Linked DNA regions of Homo sapiens: regions 1 and 2 are each linked to region 3. The links come from fine-mapping of genetic effects on gene expression. A gene starts in region 3. Each other region holds a variant in brackets. All regions are shown on one strand. Distances are from middle to middle.

Region 1 (7,198 bases), 350 kb before region 3:
TTGTGTCTTTGTTCTCGTTGGTTTCAAAGAACATCTATATGTCTGCCTTCATATCATTATGTACCCAGTAGTCATTCAGGAGCAGGTTGTTCAGTTTCCATGTAGTTGAGTGGTTTTGAGTGAGTTTCTTAATCCTAAGTTCTAGTTTGATTGCACTGTGGTCTGAGAGACAGTTTGTTATAATTTCTGTTCTTTTACATTTTCTGAGGAGTGCTTTACTTCCAACTATGTGGTCAATTTTGGAGTAGGTGTGGTGTGGTGCTGAAAAAAATGTATATTCTGTTGATGTGGGGTGGAGAGTTCTGTAGATGTCTATTAGATCCGCTTGGTGCAGAGCTGAGTTCAATTCCTGGGTATCCTTGTTAACTTTCTGTCTCGTTGATCTGTCTAATTTTGACAGTGGGGTGTTAAAGTCTCCCATTATTATCGTGTGGGAGTCTAAGTCTCTTTGTAGTTCACTCAGGACTTGCTTTATGAATCTGAGTGCTCTTGTATTGGGTGCATATATATTTAGGATAGTTAGCTCTTCTTGTTGAATTGGTCCCTTTACCATTATGTAATGGCCTTCTTTGTCTCTTTTGATCTTTGTTGGTTTAAAGTCTGTTTTATCAGAGTCTAGGATTGCAACCCCTGCCTTTTTTTGTTTTCCATTTGCTTGGTAGATCTTCCTCCATCCTTTTATTTTGAGCCTATGTGTGTCTCTGCACATGAGATAGGTTTCCTGAATACAGCACACTGATGGGTCTTGACTCTTTGTCCAATTTGCCAGTCTGTGTCTTTTAATTGGAGCATTTAGTCCATTTACATTTAAAGTTAATATTGTTATGTGTGAATTTGATCCTGTCATTATGATGTTAGCTGGTTATTTTGCTCGTTAGTTGATGCAGTTTCTTCCTAGCCTCGATGGTCTTTACAATTTGGCATGATTTCACAGTGGCTGGTACCGGTTGTTCCTTTCCATGTTTAGTGTTTCCTTCAGGAGCTCTTTTAGGGCAGGCCTGTTGGTGACAAAATCTCTCAGCATTTGCTTGTCTGTAAAGTATTTTATTTCTTCTTTACTTATGAAGCTTAGTTTGGGTGGATATGAAATTCTGGGTTGAAAATTCTTTTCTTTAAGAATGTTGAATATTGGCCCCTACTCTCTTCTGGCTTGTAGAGTTTCTGCTGAGAGATCCGCTGTTAGTCTGATGGGATTCCCTTTGTGGGTAACCCGACCTTTCTGTCTGGCTGCCCTTAACATTTTTTCCTTCATTTCAACTTTGGTGAATCTGACAATTATGTGTCTTGGGGTTGCTCTTCTCGAGGAGTATCTTTGCGGCATTCTCTGTATTTCCTGAATCTGAATGTTGGCCTGCCTTGCTAGATTGGGGAAGTTCTGGATAATATCCTGCAGAGTGTTTTCCAACTTGGTTCCATTCTCCCCGTCACTTTCAGGTACACCAATCAGACGTAGATTTCGTCTTTTCATGTAGTCCCATATTTCTTGGAGGCTTTGTTTGTTTCTTTTTATTCTTTTTTCTCTAAACTTTCCTTCTCGCTTCATTTCATTCATTTCATCTTCCATCACTGATACCCTTTCTTCCAGTTGATCGCATCGGCTCCTGAGGCTTCTGCATTCTTCATGTAGTTCTCAAGCCTTGGCTTTCGGCTCCATCAGCTCCTTTAAGCACTTCTCTGATTGGTTATTCTAGTTATACATTTGTCTAAATTTTTTTCAAAGTTTTTAACTTCTTTGCCTTTGGTTTGAATTTTCTCCTGTAGCTCGGAGTAGTTTGATCGTCTGAAGCATTCTTCTCTCAACTCGTGAAAGTCATTCTCCGTCCAGCTTTGTTCTGTTGCTGGTAAGGAACTGCGTTCCTTTGGAGGAGGAGAGGCACTCTGCTTTTTAGAGTTTCCAGTTTTTCTGCTCTGTTTTTTCCCCATCTATGTGGTTTTATCTGCTTTTGGTCTTTGATGATGGTGATGTACAGATGGGTTTTTGGTGCGGATGTCCTTTCTGTTTGTTAGTTTTCCTTCTAACAGACAGGACCCTCAGCTGCAGGTCTGTTGGAGTTTGCTAGAGGTCCACTCCAGACCCTGTTTGCCTGGGTATCAGCAGCAGTGGCTGCAGAACAGCGGATTTTCGTGAACCGCGAATGCTGCTGTCTGATCGTTCCTCTGGAAGTTTTGTCTCAGAAGAGTACCCGTCTGTGTGAGGTGTCAGTCTGCCCCTACTGGAGGGTGCCTCCCAGTTAGGCTGCTCGGGGGTCAGGGGTCAGGGACCCACTTGAGGAGGCAGTCTGCCGGTTCTCAGATCTCCAGCTGCGTGCTGGGAGAACCACTGCTCTCTTCAAAGCTGTCAGGGACATTTAAGTCTGCAGAGGTTACTGCTGTCTTTTTGTTTGTCTGTGACCTGTGCCCAGAGGTGGAGCCTACAGAGGCAGGCAGGCCTCCTTGAGCTGTGGTGGGCACCACCCAGTTCGAGCTTCCCCACTGCTTTGTTTACCTAAGCAAACCTGGGCAATGGCAGGCGCCCCTCCCCCAGCCTCGCTGCTGCCTTGCAGTTTGATCTCAGACTGCTGTGCTAGCAATCAGCGAGATTCTGTGGGCGTAGGACACTGCCAGCCATGTGCGGGATATAATCTCCTGGTGCGCCTTTTTTTAAGCCCATCGGAAAAGCGCAGTATTAGGGTGGGAGTGACCCGATTTTCCAGGTGCTGTCTGTCACCCCTTTCTTTGACTAGGAAAGGGAACTCCCTGACCCCTTGCGCTTCCCAAGTGAGGCAATGCCTCGCCCTGCTTTGGCTCGCACATGGTGC[G/A]CTGCACCCACTGTCCTGCACCCACTGTCTGGCACTCCCTAGTGAGATGAACCCGGTACCTCAGATGGAAATGCAGAAATCACCCGTCTTCTGTGTCGCTCAGGCTGGGAGCTGTAGACTGGAGCTGTTCCTATTCGGCCATCTTGGCGCTCTCTCAGGGATTACAATTTTATATGAAATTTGGGTAGGGATGTGAATCCAAACCATATCACTCCCCATACGATACTGACTTGAGATAGACTTCAGGGGTCAGAACATCTTATTCCTCAGACTATGAGGGATTTTTTTGTCACCTCTTCTGAGCATCTTTTCAAATAGTGCTGATAAGTTCACTTTGTTCATTAGAGAGAAAAAGGACAGGACGAAATAGGAGACCATAAATAGGAAGGAATGAGAATAAAATGGTCAATTAAGGAAAGGATTTTCTGAAAGCAGGCCCTGTCATTAATAATGATGATCTCTAGCTGTAATTAAAACACCTTTGTAAATGTATTCATGCCCTTGTGCCTCAGAGGTGAGGTCTTCAAGCCTGTCTCTATATCACAATCATCTGGAGAATGACAGGTCCATGTTAAAGGTATTAAATCAGAAGGTCTAGGGTCGGGGCCCAGGAATTTGCATTTTATAATAAACGGTTTGCACGCTTTTGATGCATAGCTAGTTAGGAAACCACATTGCCTCTAAGAATTTCTGTGAGTGGAGTGACATCTCTCAACCTTTAGAGGAGTGGGGAATCTTTTCTTGAGAACTTTACAAAGAATCAGCTATAATATATTAGAAGGAGATAGCTATTTAGATTTATGGATGAATGTATGTTCATATATATGTATGTATTTATAGAGGAAACTATAGATATGGTTGAAATTCCTTCTAATTTAATAGTTAGAAACAGTGAAAATGCCATTTTATTAAGTTATATGTCAAAAACATTTAAATATTTCAATCTGGTTAAAAAAAAAAAAGAGGGGTGGGCCAGAGACTTCAAGTAGGAGACAGCAGCTGGGAGACAGGCCAAGAGGATCAGATATGGAAGGGGAGGAAGAACAAAGTTGTGCTACTTGGTAATTTCTCTAGAATACAGCAGGAAAGAGGGCCAGGAAAGGACAACTGTGACCACTCAAGAAACGGGAGCCAAGGCCGGATCTTCTTTCCTTGGCTCTTCTCTGGGCTCTGACTTAATCCTGCCAGGTCTCAGTTTCTTCTCCTGAAAAATGAGCTGGATGGGGAAGAGCAGTGATTTTCAATTTAGCCTGAGAATGTGCCTTGCTGTGTCATCATTTCAGCATAGTCGTGAGGAACCCAGCATGATGACAGTTGTAATTTTAGTGTTCACTGATTTAAAAATTGATGATACCTAAAGAACTATAAACTTAGAACTTTTTAAAATTATATTTCCTTTTATTCACCACAACAGCATATATATATGCTGTATATATATATATACACACAAACATATGTGTGTGTGTATATACATACATATAAATATACACACACATCTTTAGAGCAGTTGTATACACATGTCTATAGCAGATATCAGTATCATTGCTTGAATTCTTGCTTTTTGAAAAAAACAACTTGAATCTGACTCTGAATATCATAAAAATGATTCTGTTAGTATAATCATAAGTCTAATTTCAGTCATAATCGGGCTCCCCATCAGTCCTAGGATCCCTCCAGTCTTCAACCCTCACTGATTGCCACTGAAATACTCATTGTCCCCCACCACTCGGTCCTTTTACAGTTGCCTCATCTGCTGGTTCTCTGGGCGTGGTGCCCTTTCAAGTCTAAAAGACCTGGTTGTAGGTGTCACCTGCCAAGACTTAAGAGACATAGTAGAAAACTCTCCATCTTATGATTCTATTGCTCTTCCAGTCTACTGTACAATCTCAAAATCGTCCTTACTTAGATATAAAGCTACCACTTCTCTTTCCTCCCTCGTAACTTAATTTCTCCAAGGGGTTTAGAGTTTCAGAAGATAAAATGCAGGAAGAAATTTAAACTTATTCTAAGCCAGTGGAGCACAAAGACCCTGACTACCGTCTTGGAAAGGAGAAACACAAATGATTTCAATATACTATAATTCCACATGTAATGTGTGTGTGAACCCATATATGTATATGTCTTTGTATATGTGTGGGTGTATACATATGTATATGTATAACATGTGAAACTTGTTACATTTATAGATTGGTGGTTTCTTTGTTATGGACCTAAAGCCTGTGGATTGGGAACCTCTGGACTACACAGTCTCTAAGATCCTTTCCAGCCTTAATATTAAGTGCTTCTGGGATCTCTTTGCCCTTTGGCATTGACTTTGATTGAGAATTGCTGCAACCTACAACTTCCAACAATAGGCACTAAACTCTCTATATGTAATGATAATGGTAACTTGAATGGAATTGTCATTGTTGATTGGTTGATTTATTTTCTAATCTAGGTTGAAATAAAAATATATTTGGTGTCATATTTTGCAAAATAATGGCACAACCTTCTACTAATCACATGTCTTGAAGCATTCCTTGCTCTAGGGACACCCAAGGGATTACCACTATCTACAATAGTCAGACTATGGCTGTAGTGACATATGGGATTCATCCACATGTAAACAGTTGTTCTTCAATATTTCACATTTAAATACGAACTTTGTTACTTTTGGCCATGGCATGTTGCAAAGGTTTCTACACAAAGAATAAATCAATGTGTACTTTAGAAAAGGTCATATGCTTTTAGCAAAATTTCTAAGTATAGAAACTTACAACATTTTTAGAGATGAGTTTATTAGCCTCATTAAAGTGTCACTGTGTTTAGACTCAAATGTCTAAAATGACTTTGCTGTGATCCCTCTTTTTTTTTTTTCTTGGCAGCCAATACAAAAAACAATTACTCAGAGTCACAGACCTGTAAGACTTGCCTTTTGGTATTAGAATATCATGTAGACTTTCAAAGGTGTATGCACTCCTTGTCATATGCTCATTTGAGTAATGGCATTTGCAGCAACAATGCTGACATAGTCACTTGTCTATGTATAGGAGGGCTGAGAGCGAGCAGGAATATTGATGTGCCCAAGCTAGTCCTGCCCCTCGTACGTTCTGATTTCCATGGCCTCCTCTTCAGAGCAGGGAGCAGCTACAGGATTGGGCCTCATGAGCAGCTCTGGGCAGGGCTCTCCTTGCCTTCTTGTGCTGGTCTTTGTGACTTTATCTTCCTTAATGCAGCTGAGGTAAATGCACATTTTTTTTTTTATCTTGACGCTAAACTCTAACTGACCTTAATGGCAAAATCTTTACAAATTTATACCTCTGGTTTCCTAGGTGATAATTTAACGTCATTACTCCTTGCTTCTAACCTACTTGGAAACTATTCCATTTCACTTTGGTCTTCTGTGTAGTATGATTTCCATTATGTAACTCCCATCAGAGCTGACAAGATTCCCTTGCCCCATGTAAAAGGTATATAATTTAATGACAATATTATACATTGTAATGAAATGTTTACATGTCAGAACATATATTTTAAAATAAATAGGTTAAAAAACAGACTTTGGAGTTAGGAATTGTTATTCTAACTCATTTCTTTCTTCCTTTATGTGTAAACAATTCAGATATGCAGTTTTAAAAAAGCAAATACATTACTACTACATTAATAATAAAGGAATTGTTGTAGAGATAATCATAAAGATGATGTTAACTGTTATTAAGGTTTGCTTTTAACCTGCTATGGGCAACATAAAAGTCATGAAACATTAAATTTTTTAAAAATGTTCTTGTGTATTTTTTTTTCTGGGAAAGTGCTCTCCATTCCTGTGTTATACAGAGATCCTGACTCTTTATTTTTCTTTTTTTCTATTTTGTTTTCTCATCTTTTCTCCTCTCTTTTTCTTTCCTTCTTTTGTTTTCTTTCTTTTATTTTTTTCTTTTCTTTTTTTGAGATGGAATCTTGCTCTGTTACCCAGGCTGGAGTGCAGTGGGGGGTCATAATTCACTGCAGCCTCCACCTCCTGAGCTCCAGCGAACCTACCACCTAAGCCTCCTGAGTAATTGGAACTACAAGCACACACCACCGTGACTGGCTAATTTTTGTATTTTTTGTAGAGACGGAGTTTCACCATGTTGTCCAGGCTGGTCTCAAACTCCTGGGTTCAAACAATCTGCCCACTCTGGACTCCCAAAATGCTGGGATTACAGGTGTGAGCCACTGTGCCTGGCCAGATCCTGACTTTTGAAAGTTCCTGGTAGCTTCTATCCTGTTTAGTAACACAGGCAGGAGATCCACATCAAGAAAGGCAGGCTTGGTAAAATTTCAAGTGAATTTGGAATGAATGATGAAACACACAGACACAGTGACTTTATAGTAGTGGTTTTCTGAGCTATAAGCAGTGAGATAGGCAGAATGAACTCCAA
Region 2 (7,198 bases), 85 kb after region 3:
CCCAGATTCAAGCGATTCTCCTGCCTCAGCCTCCCAAGTAGCTGGGGTTACAGGTGCCCACCACCATGCCTGGCTAATTTTTGTAATTTTAGTGAGACAGGGTTTCACCATGTTGGCTAGGCTGGTCTCAAACTCCTGACCTCAGGTGCTCCACCTGCCTCGGCCTCCCAAAGTGCTGGGATTACAGGCATGATCCACCGTGCCTGGCCATGAAGTCTCTCTTAAGACCTTTTATTGTGTGGGGCAGGGGGTTGTTTAAAATACATCCAGTGGGAATGGCAAATTGTGCCCTCTTTTCAAAGTTTGTTTTTCCTCCATCATCTATATTTGAGTTGTTCTGTGTGAATAAGTTTTGGAATGCTTCCTCCTTCTTGTTGACCACAGTGGTTGTTGACATAGACAGAGGTTGTTGGGATAGGAAGAGATCCCTGAGGTTGTCTTGTGGACAACAAAGACCCACGATAACTTTTCTTCCCATATAAGCATGGGCTATCCTAGAGCCCAGTCCCCTGTGGGATATGACCAACAATTATCTTAGAAAATTTCACTCAATCGGCTGGGCATGGTGGCTCACGCCTGTAGTCCCAGCACTTTGAGAGGCTGAGGCGGGCGGATCACCTGAGGTCAGGAATTCCAGACCAGCCTGGCCAACATGGTAAAACCCTGTCTCCACTAAAAATACAAAAAAGTAGCCAGGCATGGTGGCAGGTGCCTGAAATCCCAGCTATTAGGGTGGCTGAAGCAAGAGAATCACTTGAACCTGGGAGGCGGAGGTTCTAGTGAGTCAAGATCGCACCATTGCACTCCAGCTTGGGCAACAAGAGTGACACTCCATCTCAGAAAAAGAAAACTTCACTCAATCATTTCACTTCTACCTCTCCCAGTCCTCTTTGGAGCGTGAGGACACTTGTAAGGCAGTCTGTGGGGACAGTAACTTATAGGTTGTGTCCTGTCCGGTAGTGGGCTTTCATCAGAAGTATGCTTTTGGTCACACTACACCATTTTTTTATACCACCATAGAGTTGACAAACAGCATTCACCCATTTCATTTTGCTTTACTACTCCGATGTGGAGAAAAAAAAAATCTAAGGATTACATTTCTCTTGCAGATTTTTTAGATCAATAGCTATTATTTAAATACAGGGAATCCTGAAAGTCTAAGACTAAAAAATTTGGGTTCCTTTTGTATATGTTAAATTCTCCCATATACACATGGGTCTGTAAATAAAAATAAATAGGTGGCCCCTACCCTTGCAGTTGCATAGAGAAACTAGACCCTGAAATAAAATGGAACAACATTGGAGGATTTTTGTTTAGTGGATTAAAAATTCAATAATACTTGAAAACTTTGTCCAGCTCTTCAACAGAGATATTTGGATGAGTTTTCTGGCTTTTCTAATCAGGAAAGGCTTGTTGGAGAATTAAAGGAGATATGATTGAGGAAATAAAACACAATACAAGATTTTTCTGGATTTATTATGAATAAAAAGGGACCCCAGAGGATTAAGTGGATGTAGTTTGCAGTTGAGGTTAAGTGGTCATGGCAGTTTACCGTGGACATTGTTTAACTGATGGAAAACTCCAAAAGACTGACCAAGGAATTGAAGTAGACCAATTTGGACCAATAACTTGGAGCTCAGAATTAACCACTGTATTTCTCTATTCCAAATACCCATTCCTCTTCCCTGGAACCTCAGGCTGGCCACACAAACTTTCTTGAAAATTCTTGGGGTTCTGCCTTTACAGGAAGGCCATTTGCCTCACTCATCAGAAGTATTAGAGGTTTATTCTGCACAACCATGAAGAGGTTAAAGAGAAGGGTAGGGAGGCCATGAGGGTTCTTACATTCCATCTTGAGTCAACCATCTCCTGTTACCCTCTGAAAAGTGGCAGAATTTGTCCCAGACTTTTTTTTGTTGCACTTCATATCTACTATGGAATTACATTTATAGCTAATGCATTAACTCTAAAAATGGAGAAACCCATTGCTCTGCTGTTTTCATGGTAAGGAAAAACTGCTGAGTCATGATTGACATGGGCTGTTTCAAGAGTTTCCACGGAATGAAGGTAAACGCTTAGGATATCGCAGCCTGAGTGAGAGGCACTGCAAAGTGTGGCCGCTACTTGAAGTTCTTCATGGTGAGTGGAGAGGGAATCCTGAGCGCATCCTGGATTAGAAAAAAAAAAGAAGAAAGGTGGCCTGAAATATGATCTGAGTATATCTGGAAATACGCAGACATCTAGTACTTCACTTGCAGCACTCTGTGAACCAGAAGGCCAATTTCTACATGCTACAAGCTGCACTTCAAGATGCACCCAAAATGCATGCTCGGGAAGTTGTTTTTTGTTTTTGTTTTGTTTTGTTTCTGAGACAGACTCTCCCTCTGTCGCCCAGCCAGGAGTACAGTGGCGTAATCTTGGCTGGCTGCAACCTCTGCCTCCTGGGTTCAAGCAGTTATTTTGCCTCAGCCTCCCGAGTAGCTGGGATTATAGGCATGTGCCACCATGCCCGGCTAATTTTGTTGTTGTTGTTGTTTGTTTTGTTTGTTTTTGTTTTTAGTAGAGACAGGATTTCACCACATTGGCCAGCCTGGTCTTGAACTCCTGACCTCAAGTGATCTGCCAGCGTCGGCCTCCCAAAGTGCTGGGATTACAGGCGTGAGCCACCGCGCCTGGCTGGGAAGTCTTTTTTAATGGCAATAACCAAATGAACTCTCTTGACCTTGCTGCCTCTGCAGGCACTGCCCCGCCCCGGCCCTTCCACTCTAGAGGAAAGCACCTGGCATTTAGCATCTTTACACACAGGAAACAACAGATATGCTCAGGGACTTTTCCTCTAGCTTGTAACCAGGGATGGCTGTTGGGCTTGGCAGCCGTCAGGCTGAGAGTGACTCAGCTTAAAAGGTTTCATTGTTGATATCTGCCCTGAGCATTCCCCTTTGGACTTGGAGTTCCAGGATGTCTTGTGTCTGTGCTTCAGCATCTGAAGCCCCTTGTTGCCTGTTCTTAAGGTAGACTGCATTATCAACGGTGTCTTAAATTAATAGCTTCTCTCTACTGACTATTCACTTGTCACAGCTGACATGAAGGTTCTCAGTCCTGAGTGCCTATTAATGAAGCTCACAGATAGAGTGCAGAAACCCTTTGCAAGATCTGTTTTGCCAGCTTGCTGGTGTCCTGGCATGAAGGTCTCCGACCGACGTCTTTGAAATAGTTCCTGGCCGGGTGCGGTGGCTCACGCCTGGAATCCCAGCACTTTGGGAGGCCAAGGCGGGCGGATCACGAGGTCAGGAGATGGAGACCATCCTGGCTAAGACGGGGAAACACCGTCTCTAATAAAAATAGAAAAAATAGCCGGGCGTGGTGGCAGGCGCCTGTAGTCCCAGCTACTGGGGAGGCTGAGGCGAATGGCATGAACCTGGGAGGCGGAGCTTGCAGTG[A/G]GCCGAGATAGCGCCACTGCACTCCAGCCTGGGTGACAGAGCGAGACTCCGTCTCAAAAAAAAAAAAAAAAAAAAAAAAAAGAAATAGTTCCTTTCCACGTGGAGTGGACTGGCCACCTTGGGGCTCTACATTTGCCTGCTTGGTTCAGGCAGTTCTGTCCCATTTCATGTACATTTCACTCTTTTCCCCTACTAGCTTCTCACAGTTTAAATTATCGATGTGATTGCCTACCCAGACATCTAATTCTTTCAACAGGTAGTGGTTTACAGACTCCAGTTTCTTTATGATCATCAAGACAGGGATTGAACAACTGGCACCTTCCCTGTCTGTCCATTGAGGGGCATGTGTTTGATGTGTGTGGATGCTACTTTCATTAGGCAAGTTAATGGCAGTTAGCTACGTTCACACTGAGGAGGAAATAGACCACCGTGTATGCATTTAGTAAACACCAGCGTAGTCAGTGGATCTGTTTCCTTAACAGAACATGGTTCTGCTCCACTGTACACTTCAACCAACTGCTTCAGAGCAAGCTTTTTCCTTAGAAAAGTTTTCATTTAATTAGGATTTAGAAAGGAACGTGGAAACTTTAAGATCTCCATTTAGTCTTCTGCATACTTCAGAGACTTCTGATGTCTCCTACAGGGACAGGAAAGGAGTCAGGGGTCTGAAACTCTAGGACCTGAAAGGCAAGTGCAATTCGGTCACTGTCCACATTGCCAGGGTGTCAAATCACACATACCCTGCCTGAAAGTCTGGGAATTGGAGAATTTAAAATGACAATATTTTCTACTGTGGAATACCTTGCATTCTCCCACTCTGTAAACTACTATTCTGGAGGCGGCCCCTCTCACTATATTTCAAAACCAGATGCTTTTCTCTGGAAATACTAGAAATGTCTCTCTTCTGGGCTGACCTAAAACCAACATAGTATTGGGCATTGAAGTAAGGAGAAATATGGTCAGTGAGGCTAAGACCTCCTCTTCTGAGAATGAAAAATGACTGAGTATTTTGTGTTAGGTGGGACACTATTTGTTAATAGAGAACTTATATCTTAAGTCTCTTAAAATAATTATAGCATCTCTTAGTTATTTCCAGCATAATCCAGGAGTGAGCATTCCAAGAACATCATCTTACAACTTTTAATTAATATATCTTTCTCTAACCCTTAAAGAAATGCTGGTAACTGCTTGTCAGATGAGGAAAAGATGGATCATTATTCAAGTAAGATCCAATATGGGAAACTCAGATATAAATAGTTCAGCATTTTCGTTTCTTATCAAAGATTTATGACTGTGTCTACTTTAGGATTTATTTCTTCTGGACTATTTCAGGAGCCCCTTCACTGGTCTTTCAGCCTCAATTTCCTTTCCTCCGCCCCTTTGTTTGTTTCTCCCACTGCTCTGAGGACAGTTGTCATAAAGCTCAGTTCTAGACTTCTTGATTTGTGTCCCGGGTGCTTCCCCAGTTGTTCTCAGGCCAATTTCTCAGGCCCCTGTTTCACCATTTTATCCACACCTCCAACAGGCATTCCCTCCTGGTGGAACTTCTCCCTCTTCATCTGAGGGTGAAGGGTCTCTTTGTTGACACTGGTCCCTCTGCCGGGCATCCTCTCCCTTCTATACCTCCCTATTGCTACCAATCCTTCCTTCACTAAGAAATCAACCTAAATGCCACCTTCTTCATCCCAGACATGCTACCACTCCTGAGCCAGGAGTAATTAATTCTTTGACCTGTTGTATCGCTCTTATGGCACATGGCTCTTCTGTTTGATTTGGAAAAACGTATATCTCCTTATGCAAATTGTAAGTTCTTTGAAGGCAGGGTCCATGTTTAATTATTTTATTCTTTAATGTGCCTTAGTACTTAAAATGTCCTCTGCTGGCCAGCAGTAAGGGTGTCACCTGTGAGCTTGCTCAAAAAGCAGACTGTCAGCCCCCATCTCAGATATGTGGGATCAGAATTCACATTTTTTTTCTTTTTTCTTTTTGGAGACAGGGGCCCACTCTGTTGCCCAGGCTGGAGTGCAGTGGCACAATCATTGCTCACTGCAGCCTTGACCTCCTGGGCTCAAGCGATCTTCTCCCCTCAGCCTCCTGAATAGTTGGCCTTACAGGTGCACATCATCAAACCCAGTTAATTTTTAAGTTTTTTTGTAGAGAGGTGTCTCCATGTTGCCAAGGCTGGTTGGTCTCAAACTCCTGGCCTCTCAAGCAGTCCTCCCGCCTAGGCTTTCCAAAGTGCTGGAATTACAGGAGTGAATCACTATGCCCGGCCAGGATCCACATTTTAACAAGGGGTCTCCAGGTGATTCCAATGCAGCTGAGTTGGGAGTTCTGGCTTTGTACATTGCACAGAACCTTGTATAAAGCAGAGACTCCCTGGATAGCTATTGAACAACTAATGAATAAATCACATTAAAAGCTGAGTTTCTTCTCATTGACTTAGAGGGAGGTTACCTCATAATTACTCAAACATAGAAAACGTAACCCAACATGTACCATTTTCCTATGACCATTTTGAGTCTTAAAAACGTGGAAACCCTTTTCTTCTTTTAAAATCTTGGATTTGTTATTTCAGATCACCTTTGATAGTTTTTCTTTCTTTCATTTTTTGTGTACCCTCACTGGGTAGTGTTTGGCCTTCGCGAAGAAGGATAGAGAGAAAGCTTGCTAATTGGGGCTAAATACAGATTATGTGCAAAAAAAGAAATTGCTAGCATCTAAAAATAAGCACTCTACACGTGTATAGTTTTATAATCTTATCAGCTGTGATCTTCAGGACCAAGTACGTGGCAACTACAGGAGGATGGTCTCTGTCGCTGTCAAAAGCTGAGTATTCCAACTCTCACTTACTTGATACCAACCACAGAAGGACATGAGACTGTAATACACTGGGATTTTCAAAATGCAAAAGAATTTGATATTAAAGGCTTGTTAGCTGTCTAGGAATAAAACAAGAATGGGGAGAAACATATAAAGTAAGGAAGATTATCTCTCTACAGCTAAAACCAGGCAAAAGGACCACCCACTATGGCATATTGTGAAAATTTTGGGGGCTACTTTTGTTTGTCACAATAATTGGAGCAGTTGGTTGAAGGGTACAATGCAGCAGGGCCATGTTCTGTTAAGGAAACAGATCCACTGACTACATTTGTGTTTAATAATTGCATGCTTAGTGGTCTGTTTCTCCTCAGTGTGACGTAAGTAACTACCATGAGTTTGCCTAATGGAAGTAGCATCCACACACATCCAGCACATGCCCCTTGATGGACAGACAGGGAAGGTGCCAGTTGCTCAGTCCCCATCTCAATGATCATAAAGAAACTGGAGTCTTTAGACTGGGTGCAGTGTCTCATGCCTGTAATCCCAGCACTTTGGGAGGCCAAGGCAGGCGGATCACCTGAGGTCAGGTCAGGAGTTCAAGATCATACTGGCCAAGATGGTAAAACCCCATCTCTACTAAAAATATAAAAATTAGCTGGGTGTAGTGGCCCATGCCTGTAATCCAAGCTACTCAGGAGGCTGAGGCAGGAGAATCACTTGAAGCTGGGAGGTGGAGGTTGCAGTGAGCTGAGATCATGCCACTGCATTCCAGCCTGGGCAACAGAACAAGACTCTGTCTCAAAAAATAAAAAATTTAAAAATTTAAAGAAAGAAACTGGAGTCTTTAAATGACTGCCTGTTAAAAGAAGCAGATGTCTGAGTAGACAATCACATCAAGGATTTTAACTGAGAGAAGCTAGTAGGGGAACAAAGTG
Region 3 (7,198 bases):
GGAAAAAAGGAAAAATTTACATGAAGGAAGTTGACATGCTTTCCACAACCCTATAATTGGCCTGCTGAGAAATCATATGCAATTGTTTACGATTTTTGTGATTAATTCTCTTTATGGTGAATGCCATTTACGTTGCGTTATCAACACCAATAATGGTCCAGTTCTGTAACGGGTTAGCTATGACTGCAAAATCACCATTTGTCTTTACAGCACTCTTTTATCTCGTCACTTGTCTTTCCTTTTAAATGACATTTGTTTTATGTGGTAGCTCATTTTGAGTCATGAATTGCAACATATGGAACCACTAACCAAGAAATAGTCTTGCACCTTTCCCTGTTAACAGAAACGGAGTTGAAAACTTAGCCTCCTGGTATTATTATTATTCTAGTTCTTTATATGACTGGAGGAAAATCAGATTTCAAGTTCTTCCCGCTTTCCTTATGCCTTTCACAGCAAATTTCAAAGTATAGCAGTAGGCAGATTGCAATGTAATAGCAATTTTTAAGCCCAGAAATTAAATTAAACCAGAAAGAAATACACCTACTTCTAGTTCAAATAGTGTTTCTTCCAGAAAGAAGAACATCTCCACAGTAACAGCAGTGACAATAAGAGTATTTTCATGAAGATCGGAGTTACCAGGTTTATATAGATTGCAGAATACAGCTACTGTTTTCCAGAGACACTGACAATCAGTGCTAAATTGTTAGGAAGGTCTCTGTGCTTTGGAGAAAGATATGGAATAGTCGGTGCAAGGGCAAATAGAGTGCCTTCTCAAATTGTTTTCAGTTCCTCTTCTTAAGGAGGAACAAAAGGCCAGTAAGTAATCCAATAGAAGCTTTTCCCTATAGAATGGTCAGAAAGTTTGATCATTCAAAAGAACATTATTTTACCATAAATACATGTCTAGGTTTCATGATCCTTAATGATTCATGTTAATTCTCTTCCCCCAATGCCTTTTTCTGTTGTGCATATCACAGAGTTTTGTTTCCTGGAATATCAGCAGAGAGGGCAGTGGGCTTGGCCCGTATGGGGGAGGGGAGGGTCCTAGCAGCTGGAAAGCAAGGTCGGCTGACCAAGGGGGTTCCTTGGGCTGCCTGGAAAATGGTAGTTCAGACCTGGTGGGAGACATTTCCCTATTTTTGTCCATCTAGGGGTCAACAGAGGCCTGAAAGACTGCTCTGACACCTTCCAAACAGCCCCCAGGAAATCTTAATCAGCATCTGCCAATGGATCTTTTCTGCCTGGGTTGAGCTAGCCAGGAGGGCCCTGGGGCAGGGTGCTGTTTGTGGCTGCCAACGGCTGTGGCAGCCCTCTGCTGCCTCCTTCATCCTGGGGTTTTTGCCTTTGTGCTACACCAAATGACAGGTAGGAGCTGTTAAGCACGGGCTCTCTGGACACCAGAGCAAGGGGATTGGGGTCACAACCAAAGGCTGCGGGACATCTGATTTGGGCTGCTGCATCTCCTGCTACAGTGTTTCTCTCTCTCTCTCTCACACACACACACACACACACACACACACACACATACTTTTCTCCCACCCTCCTCCCCACTCTTCCTAGCATTAATACTTTAAAGACAAATACACAACAGTATACAAGAATCAGGATGATCTGGACCTGAAAGGCTGAACACAGCAGGGCCCTCCTTCATGAACATTTTGCACCTAAGGAAATAATAAGGTTAAAACTAGATTCATCTGGCCTTTGCCCAGGGGCCACCAGGACAGAAACTGTGTAAGATTAGTTCCTCCTTAAAGCAAGATTGCCAGGTAATTCTGTTGCAAAGTCATAGAGACCTTAAGTTATCTGCCCTGCAAATCCCACTGCCTCTATTCAGGCTGCCGAGGCACTGCTTTAATTTTTTGAAAGATTCACCGCGTCTTCTTGGATTTCAAGAAAAATCCCGTTAAGAATTGAGGGGCTCTCTTCTTCCCCTCCTGACGTGAGTGTAACTCACTTCCTGGTATGTCTCCTTTCCTTTTGGCCTACATCCTTTGTCTGTTAGGTGCTTCCACATCCTTATGTCTTAAATGGCCAAAATACGTCACCCCCACTGCCAAAACACACAGGTCACTCGAGGTCACAATCTGGAACATAGGCTGGCCATTGTTCAGCACACATTCTTGATCTAAATCAATCTCAAACCTTGCTGGAATGCCCTGTAAACTGGGGCAAAGTATGGTCACCAGACTAACCATTGTCCTTTTTTACCCCTCCTGTGACGGGGCTACTACAGGTTACAAAATCGCGCTCTTCCTCCTAGCTACTGTGTTACTCTGAGATATCTGACATCGCAGAGCTAATGTTGCCTAAATTATTTTCCCATCCTCTTTTTTTTTTTTTTTTCGGACATCATGCCTCCTATTTTCACTCTCTGGGAACTCTGCCAGTTTTTCAAGGACTGGGTAAAGAACAAAATAAATATTTGTAGGTGGTTTAAAAGGAGAAGTATGTTGGTTGTAACTCTGCCTGTCCAAAGAAATGCATTTTCACTGTCTTTCAGATTTTTGGAGTCGTTAACTGGGAGAGCTTCAGAAGATTGACTTTACTAGTTTACCTTTCAGATTTGTGATTAAGGGCTGGGTGTGTGTGTGTGTGTGTGTGTGTGTGTAAGTGTGTTGGGGGAGGGAGGAGTCTGAGAAAGTGAGCAAGTACGTAGAAACTTTTTTTTAAAAAGTCCAGATTAAGTGATTGAAATCGACTGTGTGCAAATGACGCTATACCTCTTCATAGATGTTAATCGGGCCCTAAAAAGTTAGTGCCGGAAAGTGCTTACTTACAACACTCAGCATATACTCTTTCTTTCAAATTGTTTGGGATTTTTTTTTAAGGGAGTTCACTGAAATTTGGGAGGTTCAACAGGTTGCTGTTTTTTAATATGTGGATCACCCGATTTGGGAGGCTCACTCTGCCTCTGAGATTAAAGAGATGAGGGCACTGGCTCCCAGCGAAGGCTCTCGGCCTTAATCATGTGTGAAATGTTTTCCTTCCTCGGCTGCAGAGCCTCGGTGGTTTGCAGCAGTGGAACCAGGCAGGCCCAGTTGTGGGTAGGAGAGGCCGTCACCTGTTGAGGCCTCCCCCCCACACCCCCGCATCGCCCTGCCCTGGCAGAGCCCAGCCCCCAGTCCCCGGAGAGCGCGCCTGAGGACGGACGGACGGACGGACGGACAGACCTAGGGACGGAGGGCCAGGGGCAGGGGAGATCCAAGAGGCCCCGCGCTGGAATGCAGTTTTCTCGGGCGAGGGAGACTTTGCACCGGAGTGGAAAATAGTTTGGGGTGGGGTTTCGCACCGTCCCCTCCTCCCCAGCCCCGGGCCCCCTCCCAGGCGCTTTCTGGGAGCTTTTAGAACTGCGCTCTGAAGTTTCCAGAGAGCGAGGAGCTTTTGCGGCAGGCAGAGACAATGGAAGAAAATGAAAGCCAGAAATGTGAGCCGTGCCTTCCTTACTCAGCAGACAGAAGACAGATGCAGGGTAAGTAACAGACCCATTCAAAGATGGAGTTACAGGGACGCGTGCCCCTTGCCGCTTGCTGCTTTTTATAAACTGCAGCTCTGGGACCCGGCAAAGGAAAAAAAAAAAAAAGGCAATTTCTTGGGATGGTACATTTTCCAAACTGAGTAGAGCATAGAGAACTGTGATTTCTTAGGCTTGACTTTATCTCTGGCACGATTTTCTTAAGCAGCAAAAGAGGTGGTGGGGTGATGTCACATTTGTAGTGCAGTGAGCCATCAGCATGAGCTGTATCTCTAAGCAATGACAAATAAATCACTAAGCAGCTTTTAATCATTTCCCCCCGGGGCTCCAGCCACGGGAGAAAGGAGCTGTTTTTGTGAAACTGTCTCTAGGACCGCAGCTTCCATTCATTGGTTGGGGGATTCCATGTGGCAGATGCATGCTGGCTGCAAAGTTTGTGCAGAATTTTAGAGTTAAATCACAGAAACCAGGCATGTTTTATTTTACAGATCCGAGCAGCAGGGGAGGGCTTGAGCATCTGGGTGATAGATAGAACTCTGGATCTTCTTTTATGTTTTAATTCAAAACTTGGGAGTTGTTGGACAATTTTGGTAAATTTTCTCCAGGCAGTTTCCCTTTAATTGTGTTTATAATAGACTTGTCTTTTCCGTAGGGAATTTCCAGAAGCTTATGTTGTTCCAAAGAAATTTCGCACCGGGTTGGGTGGCCAGAGGAGGTCCCTGCTCTCTGGCATCTGATGCCTGTGATGCCAAGAGCTGATTCTGTGGGATCCTATAGGCAGCATGTTCATAAACCACACAGCCCTGGACCACCCGCCCCACCCTCCCTCAGGTTCATGCAGGGGCCAGTACACAACAAAAAGACGTGCGGGAGTGCAGTGCTGTGCGTGGGAGTAGGGATTATGCACAGGGGAAAAGGTGTGTGTTTTATGAAAATGTGAAAGGGAAGTAACACATGACTCATCCACGCTGAAAATGCAAAGCTAAGCCAGTCAGGAGAACTTACAATGACAAGAGATAGAAATCCCCCAGTGAAATGCAGAAAACTTGAAGTTTTGTAATGGCTGGAGAATCCCTGAGTCTGAACAGTCATCTGTCGAAGTGTCTGCCTTCGTGCTGCCAAAGCACAGCACTCTCCTTCAGGCTACCGGGGTCAGTGGCATCCAGTGGAAGATAAGGCTACCTCGTCCCCCTGACCCCCGCAACCCCCCACCCCCATTTTCTAGGACAGGATCCTACTTCAGGAATTCAACCTCTGGGCCTGTCCTGAAAGAGATGACTCAGATTCTAGAGGGGCCATTAGAAAGGGATCCATTTAAGAAATGACTTTCCAACAATCAGGGCAATTCAGAGGCTTCAGAGGCTAGGATGGTCAGCCTGAGACAGTGTGCTCCTTTGCTCACTAATTCATTCATTCAGTGAATATTGAGCATCTGTTATGTAGACGTCACTGTTTTAGCTGCCAGACATCCAGTGGTGAACAAAGCAGACTAAAAATACTTGCCTTCATTTAACTTCCAGTGTAAGGACCAAGTTTCAGGGGGTGGGGAGCTGGTAGAGACAGACAATGAACAAATAAATAAAATATATAGCATGTTAGATGGCACGGCTGCTGGATTTAGCAAATAAAAATACAGGAGGCCCAGCTAAATTTGAATTTCAGGTAAACGGTGAATTTTTTTTTTTTTAGTATAAGTATATCCCATGCCATATTTGGGATATACTTATGTTAAAAATACTTCTCCATTATTTATGTAAAGTGCACATTTAACTGAGCAGTCCTGTATCTTATCTGGCAACCCTATTTGATGGAAATAAGGTTACAGAGAAAAATAAAGCAGGAAAAGGAATAAGGAGTGAAACTGTAAATAGGATTATTAGAAAGAGCTTCGCTGAAGTGATATTTGAACAAAGACAGGAGAGGTAACAGCAGGGATGTAATGTTTTCAAAGAACAGCAAGAACATGGGAGAAGGATGGGAGGAAAAGAGATTGAGAGGTAATCCCAGGCCAGATCACCTAGGGCCCATGAAACCATTGTAAGGACTAGAGCTTTTATTTTGAAAGAGGTGGGAATCTCCTGGCAGGTGGGACTACTTTTTTTTTTTTTTTTTTTTTTTTTTTTTAGAGAGGGTCTCATTTGTCACCCAGACTGGAGTGCAGTGGTGTGATCATAGCTCACTGCAGCCTTGAACTCTTGGGCTCAAGCAATCCTCTGGCCTTAGCTTCCAAATAGCTGGGACTACTGGGACATGCCACCATGCATGGTTGTATTGTATTGTATTGTATTGTATTGTATTGTATTGTATTGTATTGTATTGTATTGTATTTTATTTTATTTTAGAGAAGGGGTCTTGCTATGTTGCCCAGGTGAGTTACAAAGGGATTTGTCTTTTTAAATGGGGTAATACTGGGTGCTGTATTGAGCACAATCCAAGTAGGGTTGAGGGAAGGGCAGGGAGGCCTTTAGGAAGCTTCTGCAGTCAAGGAGGCAAGAACCAGGGCTAGCTTGGACCAGGCGGTGATTAGCAGGCGGTGATAAGCCAGCAGATTCTAGGTGTATATTGAAGGTAATGCCCAAAGCATTTCCTGTAGCCTGGGCAGCATAGTGAGACCCCATCTCTAGAAAAAAAAATTTAGCTAGGCATAGTGCCCTGTAGTCCCAGCTACTTGGGAGGCTGAGGCAGGAGGATCACTTCAGCCAGGAGGTTGAGACTGCAGTTAGCCATGATTACACCACTGCACTCTAGCCTGGGTAACAGTGTAAGATTCTGAAAGAAAGAGAGAGAGAAAGACAGAGAGAAAGAGAAGGAAGGAAAAAGAAAAAAGAAAAAAAAAGAAGAGAGAGGAGGGGAGGAGAGGAGAGGAAAAAAGAAAAGACAAACAAGACAAGACAAAAGCAATTGCTAAAGGATTCAACTTGGGATGTAAGAGAAAAAGAGGAGTCAGAGACAACTTCCAAAATTTTGGTGTAAGCTGCTGGGAGAACGGAGTTGCCATTTGCCTAAGTTGGGGAGTATTTACGAAGAACAGATGAGAGGGTGTTTATGGTTTGAGGTTCTGAGGAGCAATCTTTTGATAGATTAGGATTGAGAAGTTTATCAGGTATCCAAGTGGAGATGTTGACTACAATTTGGATATTAATCACTAGAGCTGAAGGAAGACTGAGAACTGAGAGATCCCCTAAGATTGAATCTGTGTGCAGAAGAAAAAGTCCAAAGGATGCCCCCCGAGGCAGTCCAGCATCTAGAGGTCAGGGAGATTGGAAGGAAGGGCTGGAAAAAATAGCAAAAGTGGAATAAAAATCCAAATTAGATTTTTAAAATCCTGTTCAGTTCTGGGTGAATATGATGCTGTAGAGAAGCATGGCTTCATTTTTAGTTCTCCCGGTGAGCACGAGTGCCGCAAGGGAGAGCAACATCTCTGATGCTAACATCACCCATAACGTTCATTTCTATCATTGCATTCTCTCTTGTGTCTGCCTGTGTATCTGTTTTACCCAATGACAATGTGATATTCCACAGCAAGGACCATGTTTTATTTATTCACGTTTGCATTTCCAGCACCTAACAGAGCACTGGGCAACCTAACAGAGCACTCACTGGGCACTGTAGAAGGCACTCAATAATCATTTGTTGAATGAAAGGCTAATTTTACCACTTTGGGACTTTGAGTTTATTATCCTGCTATAGATAAGGATCCCTAGGGTGATCATGTAACTTACT

Alleles and levels. Alleles are on the strand shown, and positions count from the first base shown. SD is a standard deviation of normalised expression in the study named.
For the expression in T cells of the gene that starts at base 3,347 in region 3, allele A in region 1 goes with a higher level than allele G (moderate effect, 0.49 SD a copy in GENCORD).
With allele A in place of G in region 2, the expression in aorta of the gene that starts at base 3,347 in region 3 is lower (small effect, 0.27 SD a copy in GTEx).

Evidence for each region. PIP is the estimated chance that this variant, and not a neighbour inherited with it, causes the effect. A credible set is the group of variants that fine-mapping cannot tell apart.
Region 1: its variant is the best candidate, but not a certain one, in a credible set for the expression of KIAA1217 in T cells (GENCORD, PIP 0.53).
Region 2: its variant is the best candidate, but not a certain one, in a credible set for the expression of KIAA1217 in aorta (GTEx, PIP 0.73).

Annotation. Positions count from the first base shown.
Region 1 is chr10:23,854,209-23,861,406 of GRCh38, forward strand. It overlaps a transcript of KIAA1217 not described here. Among named protein-coding and RNA genes, the nearest start is that of KIAA1217, 350 kb to the right of the region's middle. The variant G/A (reference allele first, on the strand shown) is at 2,799.
Region 2 is chr10:24,290,693-24,297,890 of GRCh38, forward strand. The region is part of intron 2 of KIAA1217; the gene reads left to right. Among named protein-coding and RNA genes, the nearest start is that of MIR603, 19 kb to the left of the region's middle. RefSeq lists an enhancer at 1,680-2,879. The variant A/G (reference allele first, on the strand shown) is at 3,441.
Region 3 is chr10:24,205,792-24,212,989 of GRCh38, forward strand. KIAA1217 reads left to right here and starts at 3,347. Exons shown (of 21, transcript NM_019590.5): 1 at 3,347-3,472. The coding sequence starts at 3,403. RefSeq lists enhancers at 3,533-4,732, 4,106-4,165 and a silencer at 3,766-3,815.